Regions from separate parts of the Homo sapiens genome. Here region 1 is linked to region 2. A link means that fine-mapping ties the variant in region 2 to the expression of a gene that starts in the linked region. Tissue or cell type: whole blood. Region 2 holds a variant in brackets; the other region holds the start of a gene. All regions are shown on one strand. Distances are between the middles of the regions.

Evidence for each region. PIP is the estimated chance that this variant, and not a neighbour inherited with it, causes the effect.
Region 1: CABIN1 starts here. The variant in region 2 is fine-mapped to the expression of CABIN1 in whole blood (TOPMed, PIP above 0.99).

The regions. Positions count from the first base shown.
Region 1 is chr22:24,006,378-24,014,479 of GRCh38, reverse strand. CABIN1 (calcineurin binding protein 1) reads right to left here and starts at 3,176. Exons shown (of 37, transcript NM_012295.4): 1 at 3,113-3,176. It overlaps LOC105372959 (a long non-coding RNA gene), which reads right to left. Exons shown (of 2, transcript XR_001755457.1): 2 at 5,613-8,102.
Region 2 is chr22:24,212,605-24,220,706 of GRCh38, reverse strand. GGT5 (gamma-glutamyltransferase 5) reads left to right here. Exons shown (of 12, transcript NM_004121.5): 12 at 591-1,047. The coding sequence ends at 737. It overlaps LOC124905090 (a long non-coding RNA gene), which reads right to left and starts at 7,119. Exons shown (of 2, transcript XR_007068023.1): 1 at 6,978-7,119; 2 at 4,277-5,481. RefSeq lists an enhancer at 6,552-7,078. The variant A/G (reference allele first, on the strand shown) is at 4,177.

The DNA of each region.
Region 1 (8,102 bases), 210 kb after region 2:
GAGCCTGGAACACCTTGTGGTGTGCCATAAAGTAAGTGCTTGAAGGAAAAAAAAAAAAATGAGGGCCAGTTGATAGGCCACAGAAGCTAACCTGAAGGAGATCCTAACTAAATAGCCAATGCTGGAACAGTAAGCAACAAAATAATGATGATAATGAATTTTAACTCATAGAATATAATACATATCCATGGCCTACACTGACACATAAATAATCAAATAAATAAATAAAAGAGAGAGAGGGTAGTTCTCCTTTCAGTAGAACTTGACTTAATAATGTAGAAGGAAAGAGAGAAATAATTACCTTTAGGCAAACACCACAAAGATCTGCAGATGGATGCTAAAGTCAGGGAGCAAATTTGTGGAGAACGAGAATTTGTGTCCTCTCAATGTATCTCTCCCAAGAGACTTATTAATTAGAAAGGGATAGTAATTTTATGGTGTAGAAACCTGGTAGACACCAAGTAAACCAATAGATCAAGGTAAATATCACCAGTAATAAGACATTCCAATATCTTGGACTCCATGTGATGCACTGAGAAAGACACAAAGATAATGTGTCTTTGTGTTCTGGCCAACAATGCATAATCTCACCCCAATCATTAGAAAACACTGGACAAACCTTTAAATTGAGAGACGTTAGACAAAATAACTGATCACTACTCTTTAAAAGCATCAAAGCCAAGGAAAACAAGAAAAGACTAAGGAAGTGTTATGGACCAAGGAGAAATAACTAAATGCAACATGGGATCTTGGATAGGGTCCTGGAATGAAAACACAACCTTAATTTAAAAAATGGTAACATTCATATCACATCTGTAATGTAGTTAATAATACTGTACCAACACTAGATTTCTGTTCTTGATAATTGTATGATTATGTAAGATGTTAACATTAGGGAAAGCAGGGTGAAGGACATAACAGAGCGTTTTGTATTGTTGCAATTTTTCTCTAAATCTAAAATTAGTTTAAAAAGCTTAAAAAGAGGCCGGGCATGGTGGCTCACGCCTATAATCCCAGCACTTTTGGAGGCCGAGGCGGGCGGATCATGAGGTCAGGAGATCAAGACCATCCTGGCTAACACGGTGAAACTCCGTCTCTACTAAAAAATACAAAAAACTAGCAGGGTATGGTGAGAGGCGCCTGTAGTCCCAGCTACTAGGGAGGCTGAGGCAGGAGAATGGCGTGAACCCAGGCGGCGGAGCTTGCAGTGAGGCGAGATCGCACCACTGCACTCCAGCCTGGGCCACAGGCGAGACTCCATCTCAAAAAAAAAAAAAAAAAAGCTTAAAAAGAAATAACCATTTTGATTATATATTTATCATCTGTAAGCAATGTGAGGATGGTAACCATTTATGTATTGTTCACCATAAATCCAAGAAACTCACTAAAAGGAGCTTTTAAAAAAAAAAAAGCTATTGAGGCCGGGCGCGGTGTCTGACGCCTGTAATCCCAACACTTTCAGAGGCCGAGGCGGGTGGATCACCTGAGGTCAGGAGTTTGAGAGCAGCCTGACCAATACGGTGAAACCCCGTCTCTACTAAAAATACAAAAATTAGCCAAGCATGGTGGCGGGTGTCTGTAGTCCCAGCTACTCGGGAGGCCGAGACAGGAGAACTGCTTGAACCCGGGAGGCGGAGATTGCAGTGAGCCGAGATCATGCCACTGCACTCCAGCCTGGGCGACAGACCAAGGCTCCGTCACACACACACACACAAAAGCTATTGAATAATCATGAAAAAGAAAAATATCTATTCATTTCTGACTCCCAGCCCAGCAGCTGCATTTCCTCAGATAGCAGCACATTCACCAGGCTTATTAGTCTAAGCTAATAAGTTTCCAAACCCCTTAGAATATAGTTTCCATGGCCTCAGAACACGATAAAGAGTAGCACACCTTCAGACCTCAGCACCCTGATCCAGAGTGATAACTGGGGATGTTTCCTGGCCTGGAAGGTGGGAAGCCTATGTCTTAAGCTCAGTGGTGGCAGTGCCCTGGCTGTGTGACTGACTTGACATAGATGTCAGTCTCTCAGTCTGTTTCCCCTCATGTATGAGGCTTTGTACTAGATGAGGGTTCTGCAAGCTAACCAGCCCACCCTTTTTGTACAGCCCACGAGCAAAGAATGGTTTTTACATTTTTTCATATTTGGGAAAAAAAATCATGACACGTGAAAATTATATTAACAATATATAAAATTAAAACTTCGGTCCCTATAATTAAAATTTTATTGCGACGCAGCTAGTCTGTTATGTATTGTCTTTGGCTGTATCCACACTACATCGCTACAGTTAAGTAGACAGAGTATGGACCCCCCAAGCCTAAACTACTATTATGAATACTATTATACTCATTATACTTACAATATAACAATGTAAACACTGATATATTTACAACAAAAGTTTGCCGACCGCTGAACGAGACTGTTCTAAGCATATTCTATTTCTAACCACAATAATCACATAGAAAGAATCTTAGCCACATGGAATCCGACGGTCCCACACTTATAACCTGTAATAACCCAGGTCCTGAAGAGTTAAGTGACTCCCAAAGCCACTTGTGCAGATACCTTGGGAATGCCAGGTGAGTTCCATCTGGCCAGGGCCCGCCTCTTGCGGGGAGGCAGTGAAGCAGAACGGTCAAAATTTTCAGTCTGGAGTCGCGCTCACCCACTGGGTGACTTGGAGCAAATCATTTCACCTACCCGCGGCCTCAGTTTCCACCCCTGTAAATGGCACCAATAACAACACTCACCTCGCAGGGCTGCTGTGAAGGTGAAGCGAAAGGTCGCGAGTAAAGGGTTAGCGCGCTGGGCTTTGCACCCAGCAGACGCCAAATCAATGGTGGCTCCTGCGGTTACTGGGAACCTCCCCGGAGGCCGGAACCCATTCTAGGCACCTCAGGGCGGCGGCGAGAGCCATGAAGAGGCTCGCGAGGCAGCCAGGAAGCCCGGCCTCGGTTTCCCTGACTGGGGCTCTAAAGCTGCCCGCGAAACCCCCAGCTTCCTCACGTAACCCAGCCTCGCGCCTGCAGCCCCTCCGGCCTGTGCCCCGGGCTCTGCTGAGCCTCACCCCCACCCCGGCACCGCCTTCAAACCAGCCTTCCAGGAACTCACCAGGCGTCTCCACAGCAACGGCCAGTCTGTCCCGACCACCGCGCCGTCCGGCTGCGCGCCTGACAACAAGGCGTGCTCCCATTGGCTCCGGTGCCGGTTGTGCCAGCCAATCAGCGGGGGCGCACGCGCCGCTCGCTCTCCGCGGGCTGCTTAGCTGGGGCCCTGCAGACGGCTACCCTTGGGCGGCGCGCGCGCGCGTGCGCGCGTGTGTGCGCGTGTGTGCGCGCGTGCGCGTGTGCGTGTGCGTGTGTGTGTGTGTGTGTGTGTGTGTGTGTGTGTGTGTGTGTGTGTTGCGGGAGTGGAGCTTGTTGTTTCCGGATCCCCGTCGTCAGTCCTAGCGTGCTGGAGGCTTAGAGCACCAGCTCGTAGTCGGACTCTCTTCTCCACAGCTTGCACCCTGAGCAGTCACTAAATGATGGGCTGTGTGTTATTACCTGGGACATGTGCTCTGAAAACAGTGGAAACTTGGGGAACACTTAGAGCGGGGTGTCCAATCTTTTGGTTTCCCTGGGCCACGTTGGAAGAATTGTTTTGGGCCACACATAAAATACACTAACACTAAGGATAGCTGATAAGTTAATAAATAAATAAATAATAAAAATAAAAATCACCAAAAAATCTCAAAATGTTGTAAGAAAGTTTATGAATTTGTGTTGAGCCGCATTCAAAGCCAAGCAGACCAGCGCGTTGGAGAAACTTGACTTAGAGGGAACCAGGGAGGAGGAGCATCCTCATTCATTATATTACCTGTGCCTCTCTTTCCAAAAAGGATGTGAAGCCCAAAAGGAACAGATACAATAGGATATTGAAACAAAAGGAAAAAAAGGAACAAAACCTAGTAAATGAACAAGAAGAGGGGTCATGGGTGGTGTCAGAATTCCAGAGATGAAAAAAGGCGACAGAGTTGAAGGGGTTCTGTCAAGGGTCTTGGGCTGAAAGATGGTACTCTCTTGGGAGCTAGAATAACAATAAAGCATTGTAGGGAAGAACTTTACACTGTGGTTGAATTCATAGCTGCTTGAGTCTTGCACAGATGATTCAAATAGGAGTGAATGTTGGGGGCTTTTTAACCTCAAAGACAGTAACAGCATGGTGAAAAACTCAGTTCAGTACAATAAAGCTATACTGATAAGCTAGAAGTTCTGAAAATTGTTGAGTCACCAACCTTGACTTTGAGTATTGGGGTAAACAGTATTTGGGGGGTAAACAGAAGCATAAACAGATGGTTTCAAAGCTGCATGGATAACCTTCAGCCTCGGATACAGCTTCCACTCAAGCCTTATCATGAAAGATGCGCTGGAGAGAAACAGTTGAAAATAGGTGGGAAGGGTGGTCCAAGCAGCAAGAAAGTTGTGTGGGGAAGGTCCGGAGGTGAGAAACATGCAGATCATGCTGGAGTGTCATGCAGCACAGTGTTACCGTGAGGCAAAGCTCAGGGCCACAGTGGGGAGAGAGCACTCTGGAGAGTTAGGAAGAGGCCAGTCCAAACAAGCAAGCAGAAAACATATTGTTGCAGTCTTGCCCGTGCACCACAATGTACCAGTCTCTCATTGTGGGGTATCACCCAGAATTCTTTGTCTCACGACCAAGAAAATTAGGGAGTGTGGACACAAAGGGTAAGGTTGAAGCAAAAGTTTAATAAGCAAATGAAGAAAGCTCATTGCAGCTGGCGGGGGGCCCAAGCAGGTTGCCCATTATGAGGCTGGGTCAGGGGGTTTTATGGACTGGGAAAGGAAGGAATGTACTGACTGGTCTTGGAGAAAGCACTACTCAGCTTGGCCCCTGGACCTTGAGGGACCAATCAGGAGCTGAAGTGATAGCCTGGCCCAGGACCAATCAGAGGCTCACATTCTAAAGCACGTCCAAGAAAGGAAAGTGCCCACTGGAACCCACTGTAGCCCACCGTGTACATGTCCACAAAAGGAGAAGAGACTATTTCCTGGAAGCCCACTGGTTATACAAAGGACAAAGGCATTTCTATGCTGGGTCTTGTTCCCTTATCAAAGTAGCTGTGGGCATGCCTTAGGCACAAAGATCAAAGGTGTTTCTGTGTTGGGCATTGTTCCTTTATCTGAGTGAGCCAGAGGTTTGTGCAAGTTTCCTTATCTGTGCCTGAAGCCTGATTTTTCAGGCTGTTCCTCTGTTTAAAGGAGTTTTACCAAGGACCCACCTTAATTACCTAACTTTTCTCTCTCAATATCACTCTCACTACACTGAGGATGGCAGATTTAACATGGGGAATCTATATCAAAGACTGTGGCCTTATGGTCTTGGTGAGAGTTAGGCCTGAATCCCATCCATGGTGACCGCAACGATTCATTCATATCCAATGCAAGCATTCCCTGAGGCACTCTGGGAAGCAGGACACCATGAAACACACTGGCAGAGGAATGAGTGCAAAATACTTGGGTCAGGGGTCCAGGGGAAGGAACTCCAAGGTCTAGCTATCAATGAAAGTCCTTAGCAGTGGTTAGGTACAAACACACCAGGCACAGGCATATTCCATTAGAAATTGATTTTATTAACTACATAGACTGCACAGACTGAAAATCTGAATTTGGTGTTTCACTGGTACGCTAAAGATAAGGATCATCAAAGGTTTATGCAGGGAAACAGTGACCACCACGGTGTCCAAGGGTCATTAGAGGAAAATTCTGCATGGAACATGTGGAAAGCTACAGAAATGGAGACTCCCTATAGGCTCCCCCACACCACCCCTACATACTTTGACATTCAACAGACTGATAGGATATTTAGATAAGAGGGTGGGGACCTCATTCATTCAGTTTCAATGCAGTTTCGGCGCTGACATTGCATTTCCAGGTTTGGCATTCTGGGACATGGGTTTTACAAGGTGCCTAGCTACAGAGAATTATCAGCAAGAGTTAACAGAGAAGATGAAGTTCTCTGCCCAGGAATGCCCAGAGAAAGTCCCTGAAGACAAATCTGCCCTGTGCTCTGGCCCACTACAGCAGACTATGGAGAGGAAACAGCTCAGAACTAGTGGAGAAGGGCTGAGCAACTCCTGGAGGTCCAGAATTCTGGGGAGGGCAGGTGAGAGGAGCAGCAATGGGGCTTGAGCTCTTCCTGGACCTGACACACTATCCACTTTTGCAAGACAGAATGACATCCCTTTTGAGCTGTGGATGGTGGAGTTGGCTTGGGGTGAGCCAGGTGGCTGGGCTGGGCCCCATGGAGTGGGTGCCAAGGACCAGGCCCTACACTGAGCCTTCTCTCCTTTCTGCCCACCAAGGGAGCACCTGAAGCCTGAGTTCCTGAAGGTGAACCCCCTGGGGAAGGTGCCTGCCCTCAGAGATGGCGACTTCCTACTAGCAAAGAGGTAATGGTGACCTGGTGCCCACCCAGGGTCAGAGCCAGGATCTGCCTGGGTTCTGGGGCTCAGAGTTGTAGGGGGAGGCAGAGGCGAGAGGGGAGATCTTTCCTTGGCTTGGAGATCTTTCCAAATCACTGAGGCCCCTTCCTCATTTCAGCCTGTGTAGCTCCGATGCAGAGGCTGGACCCAGGGGCACCTTTGGGCTAAAGCTGGAGGCTGGAACCTGGCTAGAGTCTGAGCCAGCTGGAGCTGCCCAGGTGGGGAAAGGACGTAGGTCACCCGGATAAACCTGGACAACCTGAAGCCAGCGGGCAAGGCCCAGGCTTGAGGCTGGCTCCTCCCCAAATGTCCCCAGCTCATCCTTTCAGAGTCCTAGGAGCTGGGCAGACCCAGGGGAGACTCCACATTCAATCCCAGCTCACCACTTCCTCAATCCATGCCCTTGGGGAAATCACAGAACTTTGTGTGCCAGGTTTCTCCTCTGTAAAACGGAGTGGGAGGAATAATGTATCCACCTCCCAGGGCTTACCTGAGGATAGAAAATGGGCACCTAGTGTTCTGGGGCACTAGGAAGGGAACTTGGAGACCTTTTGGGCAGGGCCCACACGGCAGGCACTCTGAGTGGGGACCCTGATGCCAGGGAGTGGGGCCTGGGCACAGAGGGCAGGATGGTATGGTAACTGGGAGGGGAGGTGGAAACATGGGCCCAGGGAGGATCAGAGTTGGAAATGGAGAAACAGAGTGGTTTGGTCGTGGGGAGATACTGCCTGGAGGGAGTTGCAGTATAGGGGAGGTCCTCCCCTGAAGGTGAAGGTGGGGAGAAAACCTGGTCAAATCACCCTGAGTATGAGCAATGAAGCCACCTGGCCCTGACAGGCTGGAGAAAAGATCTCTGACACCCCCTGCCCACAGCATGGTCATCGTTTTATACCTGAGTCGAAAGTACCAGATACGGGGACACTGGTACCCACCTGAGCTGCAAGCCCGCACCTGCGTGGATGAGTACTTGGCGTGGAAGCATGTCACCATCCAGCTGCCTGCCACCAATGTCTACCTGTGCAAGGTGAGCTTCCTAGGCCCTGTCATGCAGGCTGGGGCAGGGGCCTGGACCCCCAGAGATGGAAGGCACCAGTTGGTACATATTACATATTAGCTTCACTTCCACTGTCCTCAGCAGACATAACTAATCTATCACAGTACTCCTTCCCCTAAGCCTGAATGAATCCTTAGAAACCTTCTGAACACAGAGCCCCAGAGGACATCACTAATGAGTGGCAGCCGGGAAGGGATGGAGAGGAGGCCCAAGAGGCTTCCAAGAGTCTGGGTTAAGTTGCTCCTCTCCTCCCAGCCCAGTCTCTCCTGCCCCACTTCTCCGGACAGCCTGCAGATGCTGCACAGCTGGAGCGGCTGTTGGGGAGGCTGATGCCAGCCCTGCAGCACCTGGATTGGGGGGTGCTGGTGGCCAGGCCCTTCCTGGCAATGGAGCAGATCTCCCTGGAAGACTTGGTGCTGACGGAGGTGATGCAGGTGAAGCTTTCCTACCCACCTGCCCTCTGGGGGGACTCTGGGCATGGGGCTGAGCCCCAACCCCAGCTGCCCTGTCTTCCCAGCCCACTGCCGTTGGCTGCGACCTCTTCCAAGACTGCCCCGGCTGGC
Region 2 (8,102 bases):
CCTGGCTGTTCTCAAACTCCTGGCCTCAAGTGATCCTGCCACCTTGGCTCCCAAGTGGCTAAGACTGTAGGTATGTGCCACCACGCCTGGCTTTTTTTTATTTCTTATTTTTTATTTTTTAGAAACAGGATCTTGCTGCATTGCCCAGGCTGGTCTCAAACTCCTGGCCTCAAGTGATCCTCCTTCCTCAGCCTCCCAAATTGCTGGCATTACAGGTGTGAACCACTGTGTCTGGCCTCAGTGTCTAAATCTTGAGAAGCCACATCCTCCATCGAAGGCCCCCTGAACTCAGATTTGCACCTCAAGGCCCTGGTGTCCTTGGATCCAGAACAGACATGAACTTGCATTTGGAGGTCTTCGGGCCTGGGTGGTGTCCTTCGTACATAGTCCCTGGAGGCTGAGCTTGTCCTCTATGGGCCTTTGGATCTCTTCCATGCTCCCATCTGGTCCTCCCCTCTTCCTGTGTCTTCAGGCCCTCTTCCTCTCCGTCTTGCCTTTTGATCATTTTTCTCATTTCTTGCAGAGGCCTCTCCCTCCTGGAGATGGGCTGAGCTGCCCTCCCCTGTGAACCTGCTTTCTCTCCTCTCCAGGAGGTGCAGAGGGGACTCCAAGACCGTGGCCAGAACCAGACCCAGAGGCCCTTCTTCCTGAACGTGGTCCAGGCTGTGTCCCAGGAGGGGGCCTGTGTGTACGCCGTCTCGGACCTGAGGAAGAGTGGGGAGGCCGCAGGCTACTAAGACACTGCTCTGCCCAGAGCTGAAGTCTGGCCCCACCATGAGTCCTGTGTCCAGGCCGGACATGGCTGGGGGACCAACTACTCTGGCAGGATCTGGACCCCTGGCAGGGGAGTCCAGCTGAGAGTGGAAGAGGTGGCGGGGACCAGCTGGGCAGATGAGAGGCTGAGCCTCATCCCTAACCCCCTTTCCCAGAGCCCCTGGTGGTCCTGAACCGGCCCCTCTATCCCTCCGCAGGCCTCTTGCCTGGGGCCACTCTCCCACCCTCTCGATCTGTATATCCTCCAGTCCAAGATTAAAGAGGCGGACTGTGGCCTGATTCCATGGTTCTAAGTGGGGAGGGGACCCTCGGACAGTGCACAGAGGGGTGCATGCACCAGGCTCCTATGGCTCTCCACATTCCACCACCATGGAGGTGGGGAAACTGATGCTCGTGGACCAGCCGAACCTCAGCCAGGCCACCCCTGGACAGAGACAAGCACCACCTCTGCCTCCCAACACCTCACCACTCTGGTGGCCAGGACTCAGCAGCGTGACTGGCCCCAGACCTGAGAGCTGGTTAACTGAAAAATCACACAATTCACAAATTTGGAAAAGAGACTTTTTTCTTTCTTCTTTCCTTTCATTTTTTCTTTCTTTCTTTTTTCTTTGAGATGGGGTCTTGCTCTGTCATTCAGGCTGGAGTGCAGTGGTGCAATCACGGCTCACTGCACCCTCAACCTCCTGGGCTCAAGCCATCCTCCTGCCTCAGCCTCCCAAGTAGCTGGGACTACGGGTGTGCAACACCACACCTGGCCAATTTTTAAAATTTTTTTTGTAGAGACAGGGTCTCGCTATGTTGCCCAGGCTGGTCTTGAACTCCTGGTCTCAAGCCATCCTCCCTCCTCGGCCTTCCAAAGTGCTGGGATTAAGGTGTGAGCCACTATGCCCGACAAGACTTTCTTTTTTTTTTTTCCTTCAACTTGTGTTTTGAGTTCAGGGGCCCATACGTAGGATGTGCAAGTTTGTTACATAGATAAACATGTGCCTTGGTGGTTTGTTGCAGAGATCAACCCATCACCTAGGTATTAAGCTCAGCATCCATTAGCTATTCTTCCTGAAGCTCTCCCCCATCCCCCAACTTACTTTCTTTTTTTTTTTTTTTCTGTGAAACAAAGTCTCACTCTGTTGCCCAAGCTGGAGTGCAGTGGCAAAATCTCAGCTCACTGCAACTTCTGCCTCCCAGCTTCAAGCGATTCTCCTGCCTCAGCCTCCTGAGTAGCTGGGATTACAGGTGCGTGCCACCACACTCGGCTCATTTTGTATTTTTTGTGGAGATGGGGTTTCACCATGTAGCCAGGTTCATCTTGAAATCCTGACTTCAAGTGATCCGCCTGCCTTGTCCTCCCAAAGTGCTGGGATTACAGGTGTGAGCCACAGCGGCAACTTTATTTTTCATAAAGGGTTACAGACTGCAGGGTGGCCATCCGCCACTTTCAAAAGCATAGCCTCTGGCAGAGACCAGAGACAGGCACTTCTTTTTTTTTTCGAGATGGAGTCTCGCTCTCTTGCCCAGGCTGGAGTGCAGTGGCACGATCTCGGCTCACTGCAAGCTCCACCTCCCAGGTTCACGCCATTCTCCTGCCTCAGCCTCCCGAGTAGCTGGGACTGCAGGCGCCCGCCACCACGCCCGGCTAATTTTTTTTGTATTTTTAGTAGAGACGGGGTTTCACTGTGTTAGGCAGGATGGTCTCGATCTCCTGATCTCGTGATCCGGAGATAGGCACTTCTAAGGAGGAGAGGTTGGGGCAGGAGCTGTATGCTGAAGGGGTTGGCTAAACATACATATTCAACATGTTACAGGGAGAGCTATGAATATTCATGAAGGCAGTCTTGACACATGTGTATTGAACGAACATGCATGTAACATAGGACTCATGTTTGCTGTAGGATGAAGACGGTGGAGACTTAACATTAAAATGTATTACAAGGTCAGGCACGGTAGCTCACGCCTATAATCCTAGCACTTTGTGGAGCCGAGGCGGGTGGATCACATGAGGTCAGGAGTTCAAGAGCAGCCTGGCCAACATGGTGAAACCCCAACTCTACTAAAAATATAAAAATTAGCCGGGCACAGTGGCGGGCGCCTGTAATCCCAGCTACTCAGGAGGCCAAGGCAGAAGAATTGCTTGAACTCAGGAGGCGGAGGTTGCAGTGAGCCAAGATGGTGCCACTGGACTCCAGCCTGGGCAACAGAGTGAGACTCCATCTCAATAAAATAAATAAAATAAAATAAAATGTATTACAATTAGGCCCCATCTGTCAAAACATCTTTTCAGGGCCTGAAGGCCTGCAAGTGAGCAACTTCTGAAAACCAGCCAGAGCCAGTTCATGGTCAATGGTCTCTTATCAGGAGAAAGTTACTGAAATCAGTCTCTTGTCCAGTCGGAGCTGTAGTTATGCCTGGAAAAACAGGGGGTCAATAAGTTGGCATCCGTGAGCTGGATGAGCTGCAAAGTGTATTAATGTTGCTTCAGGCCGGTGCTTGTTGCTGCTGGAGGAAAAGGAAAGCCTCATTGCTGTTAGAACATAGTTTATTCTTTAAGTGCAGGGTCCATGAATTAACCCCTGCCTGGCTTGGCCTTGGGTCCTCTTTATAATTTGGTATCTTGTTGCCACAGAGTCTGTTCTGTCATTTTTTTTGAGACAGGGTCTGGCTCTGTCACCCAGGCTGGAATGCAGTGGCATGATCTTGGCTCACTGCAGCCTTCACCTCCCTGGCTTAAGCCATCTTCTCAACTCAGCCTCTCAGGTAGCTGGGACTACAGGCACAAACCACCATGCACGCTGCCGTGCTCAGCTAATTTTTTTTTTTTTGAGACAGGGTCTCACTTTATCACCCAGGCTGGTGTGGAGTGGTGCAGTCTCAGCCCACTGCAGCCTCGACCTCCTGGGCTCAAGCAATCCTCCCACCTCAGGCCCCCAAGTAGCTGGGAGTACAGGTGTGTGTCACCACATCCGGCTGATTTTTTGCTTTTTTTGTAAAGATGGGGTTTCACCATGTTGCCCAGGCTGGTCTCAAACTCCTGGCTTCAAGCAATCTTCCTGCTTCGGCCTCCCAAAGTGCTGGGATTACAGGTGTGAGTCACTGCGCTTGGTCCTCATCCATGTTTCGAATGAAATGATTCTTTGTTGTGGGGGGCTGTCCCCACACTGTAGGATGTTGAGCAGCATCCCGTGCCTCAGCCTGTGTGATGCAGTAGCACTCCCCACCGCACACACCCACTCATGACAACCAAAACTGTCTCAAGACAGTGCCACATCCCCCTGGTTGAGAATGGCCGCTCTAAACCAACAGGCCCCTAACTTCCATAAATAGCTTTGCCAGCTGCAGGGTGGGTACGTGGTGCTCTCTGGGGATCTCACTAGAGGGATCTGGGACTCCTGCGCCTCACTGGTTCCT[A/G]GGAACATCGGCTGTTCCTCCATCACCCCAAATGTGCCACAGAGGTTGTTTTAGTCTGCCTGGGCTGCCATAACAAAAATACTGGAAAGTGGGTGGCTTATAGCATTTTCCAGAAATTTATTGCTCACAGCTCTGGAGGCTGGGAAGTCCAAGATCAAGGTACTGGCAGATTTGATGTCCTGTGAGGGCCCATGTCCTCATACATGGCACCTTCTAACTGACATAGTGGAAGAAGCTAGCTAGCTCTCTGGGGTCTCTTTTATTTAATTACTTTAGAGACAGGGTCTCACTCTGTCACCAAGGCTGGAGTACAATGGCGTGATCATAGCTCACTCCTGTACCCAAGAGATCTTCCTGCCTCAGCCTCCTCAGTAGCTGGGACTGTAGGTGCAGCCCACTATGCCTGGCTTCTGGGGTCTCTTTTATAGGGCACTAATCCCATTCATGAGGGCTCTACCCTCATGACCTAACCACATCCCAAAGGCCCCACCTGCTAACGCTATCACATTGGTGATTAGCTTTCAACACGTGAATTTTGGGGGCATAGTGGGTCCACCTGGATGGTCCAGGATAATCTCCCCATCTCAAAAAATTGAATCACATCTTCAAAGTCACTTTTGCCATATAAGGTCTAATCTTGGGTTCTAGGGATTGGGATGTGGATATATTTGGAGGTTGTATGTGGGAGAGGGGCTGGATGGGGCTAATTCCTAATCTGGGCTTGACTGCATGGCTAGAAGAGGTGGTCTGGCAGACTAGGAGGAAGGTCTGGGAGCAAAACATGGCTCACTTTGAGATGAGGGGGCCAAGCCGGCCCACCACTTGGGCAGACCTGCCATCATCACCGACTCTCGTGGGCCGCTGTCAGAATTCAGGCAGATGCGAGACCACCAGCTTCTCCTGCGATCTGGCTTTGGGAGGCAGTGGAAGACAGATCTTTGAAAGCAGCACGGCTGGGTCAGGGGTCCAGGGAGCAGAACTGGTGGGTTTAGAGAGAAGGGAGTCTCTGGAGTGCTTCAGTGTGGTGGGATCCAGAGGCCGAACTCACACCGTCAGGGCCCTCCGTGTGGTAGCCTCCTGCTAGATAGGCTCCCAGGCCATGATCTCAATGGCTTCAGCTGAACTTCACGCCCTGCAGGGTGACAGAGCTTCTCTCCTTGCAGTTTAAACAAAGTCCCAGATCCAGCTCTCAATGGGGCCCCTCTGAGCAGTCTTCATGGGCAGGGGAGGGCTGAGGAGAAGTGGTTGGCTCAGGTCTGTGGGGCCACCTTGAGAGCTGTTGGTAGCAGCCACCTGTCCCAAACCCTGTGGACCAAAAAGGAAAAGGGAACCAAAGGAGGAGAAGGCTGCTAGGCACAAACCTCAGGTGCCCCACGGTGGGAACCTGGCTCTGTGCTCCCAGACCACACCTGCGCCTGGGCCGGGGTGCTGGGAGGCTGCCTGGAGCTTGCTTGGGAAGGCCTGGCCAGTCTCTCCCATCAGTGCCTCCCAGTGGCACCCAAAGAGCATGATAACTTTGTCCCTGTGTGTCGGGGAGAGGAAAAGGGGCTCCTGTTCCCCCCAGCAGGGGTGCAACCCTGGCTCTGTGGTGCCTGATTCTGACTCACCTGCAGAGTGAGGGTGCACTCCCTGGACCCTTGGCCACCCTGGGACTGCCACCCACCTGAGAAGGCTCATTCACTACTTGTGAACTGATGGATCTCCATGTCGGCTTTGGCCGAGCTGTTTGGAGTCTCAGACCCACATACCCGAGCAACCACCTCCAGAGCATCTGGACAAGGTGCACAGGCACCTTGGACTCAAAGTGCCAAATGGAAGTCGGCCCTGAGGCAGCTGGAAGCTCTGCGGTGCCTGCCTCGCCTCCCTCCTGCGCTACTCGTAGAACCCCCCTCTTCCCTCCAGCTGTGTGGTTCAGCCCTGACTCCACCTCCTTCTCTCTTTTCCATCTTTTTGCTGCTGGCACCACCACAGTCTACTCCCCACTCCTAATGCAATAAGCTTTGGAAAATGCACATCTGACCCTGCCTGGAGGTAGTGCAGAGACTTCCTTGGTTCCTGAGGCCCTGGAGGAAGCCCATTCCTCTCCCTCCCTGCTCATCCCACCCTGGGAGACTTGCCCAGGCCCTGCCCCTACATCCATTCTGCACCACCAGCAGTGCCAGCCAGTGTGCATTCCCAGCCCAGCCAGAGACTCTTACAGCTGGCTTTTGAAACATCTTGTTACACAGAGGAAATCAATACCAAAAGGGCGACATCTTCAACTAACACTGTAATCAATACAGATCTGACCCTTCAGGATACAGCTAATGCAGGGCTCGGAGGAAAATTCATTTGCTTAAATATTACATAAAAAATAAGAATCAAAATAAATAGGCCAGGTGCGGTGGCTCATGCCTGCAATCCCAGCACTTTGGGAGGCCAAGGCAGGTGGATTACTTGAGGTCAGAAGTTCAAGACCAGCCTGGCTAACATGGTGAAACCCCGTCTCTACTAAAAATACAAAAAAATTAGCCAGGTGTGGTGGCGGGCACCTGTGATCGCAGCTGATTGGGAGGCTGAGGGAGGATAATTGCTTGAACCTGGGAGGCAGAGGTTGCAGTGAGCTGAGATCGTGCCACTGCACTGCAGCCTGGGTGACAGAGCGAGACTCTGTCTCAAAAACAAACAGGCCAGGCGCTGTGGCTCATGCCTGTAACCCCAGCACTTTGGGAGGCCAAGGCAGGCGGATCACGAGGTCAGGAGTTCAAGACCAGCCTGGCCAGCATGGTGAAACCCCATCTCTACTAAAAAAAAAAAATTACCAGGCATGGTGGCGTGTGCCTGTAGTCCCAGGTACTCGGGAGGTTGAGGCAGGAGAATCGCTTGAACCCGGGAGGTGGAGGTTGCAATGAGCTGAGATCGTGCCACTGCACTCCAGCCTGGGTGACAGAACGAGACTCGGTCTGAAAAACAAACGAACAAACAAACCAACAAAAATAAATAAAGTATATTATTTAAGAAGTTAGTAAAGTAGGCTGGGCATGGTGGCTCACACTTGTAATCCCAACACTTTGGGAGGCTGAGGCAGGCCAATCATTTGACGTCAGGAGTTTGAGATCAGCCTGACCAACATGGTGAAATCCCATCTCTACTAAAAATACAAACATTAGCCAGGCATGGTGGCGGGCGCCTGTAATCCCATTTATTCAAGAGGCTGAGGCAGGAGAATCACCTGAACCCAGCAGGCAGAGGTTTCGGCGAGCCGAGATCATGCCACTTCACTACAACCTGGGCGACAGAGCGAGACTTCATCACAAAAAAAAAAAAAAAAAAAAGAATAAAAAAGTCAGTAAAGGAAAAATAAAGAAAGCGAAAGAACTCAGGAACAACTGAAGCAGAAACTGATAAATTTGAAATCAGAATAATAGGTCTTTGAAAAAAAAAAAGATAGGCTATTAGCTAGTGAATTGGTACAAATGAATACACAAAATAAGAAATGAGAATGAAGAAATAATCACATCTATAGGGGAACTTAAAAGATTACTCATCTTTATTTTAATAAATTTGAAAACTTGGACATAATAAAAGCCTTTCTAGGACAATATAAATGGAGTTGAGTTGCAATACTTAGGACATACTTAGGCTAAAAACAAATTGTCATTTATCTGACATTCAGATTTAATTGGGCATCCTATATTTTTATTTATTTATTTATTTATTTTTCTGAGATGGAGTCTCACTCTGTCACCTAGGCTGGAGTGCAGTGGTGCAATCTTGGCTCACTGCAACCTCCGCCTCCCAGGTTCAAGGGATTCTTGTGCCTCAGCCTCCCGAGTAAATGGGATTACAAGCACCCGCCACTGCATCTGGCTAATTTTTGTATTTTTAGTAGAGACAAGGTTTCACCACGTTGGCCAGGCTGGTCTCGAACTCCTAACCTCAAATGA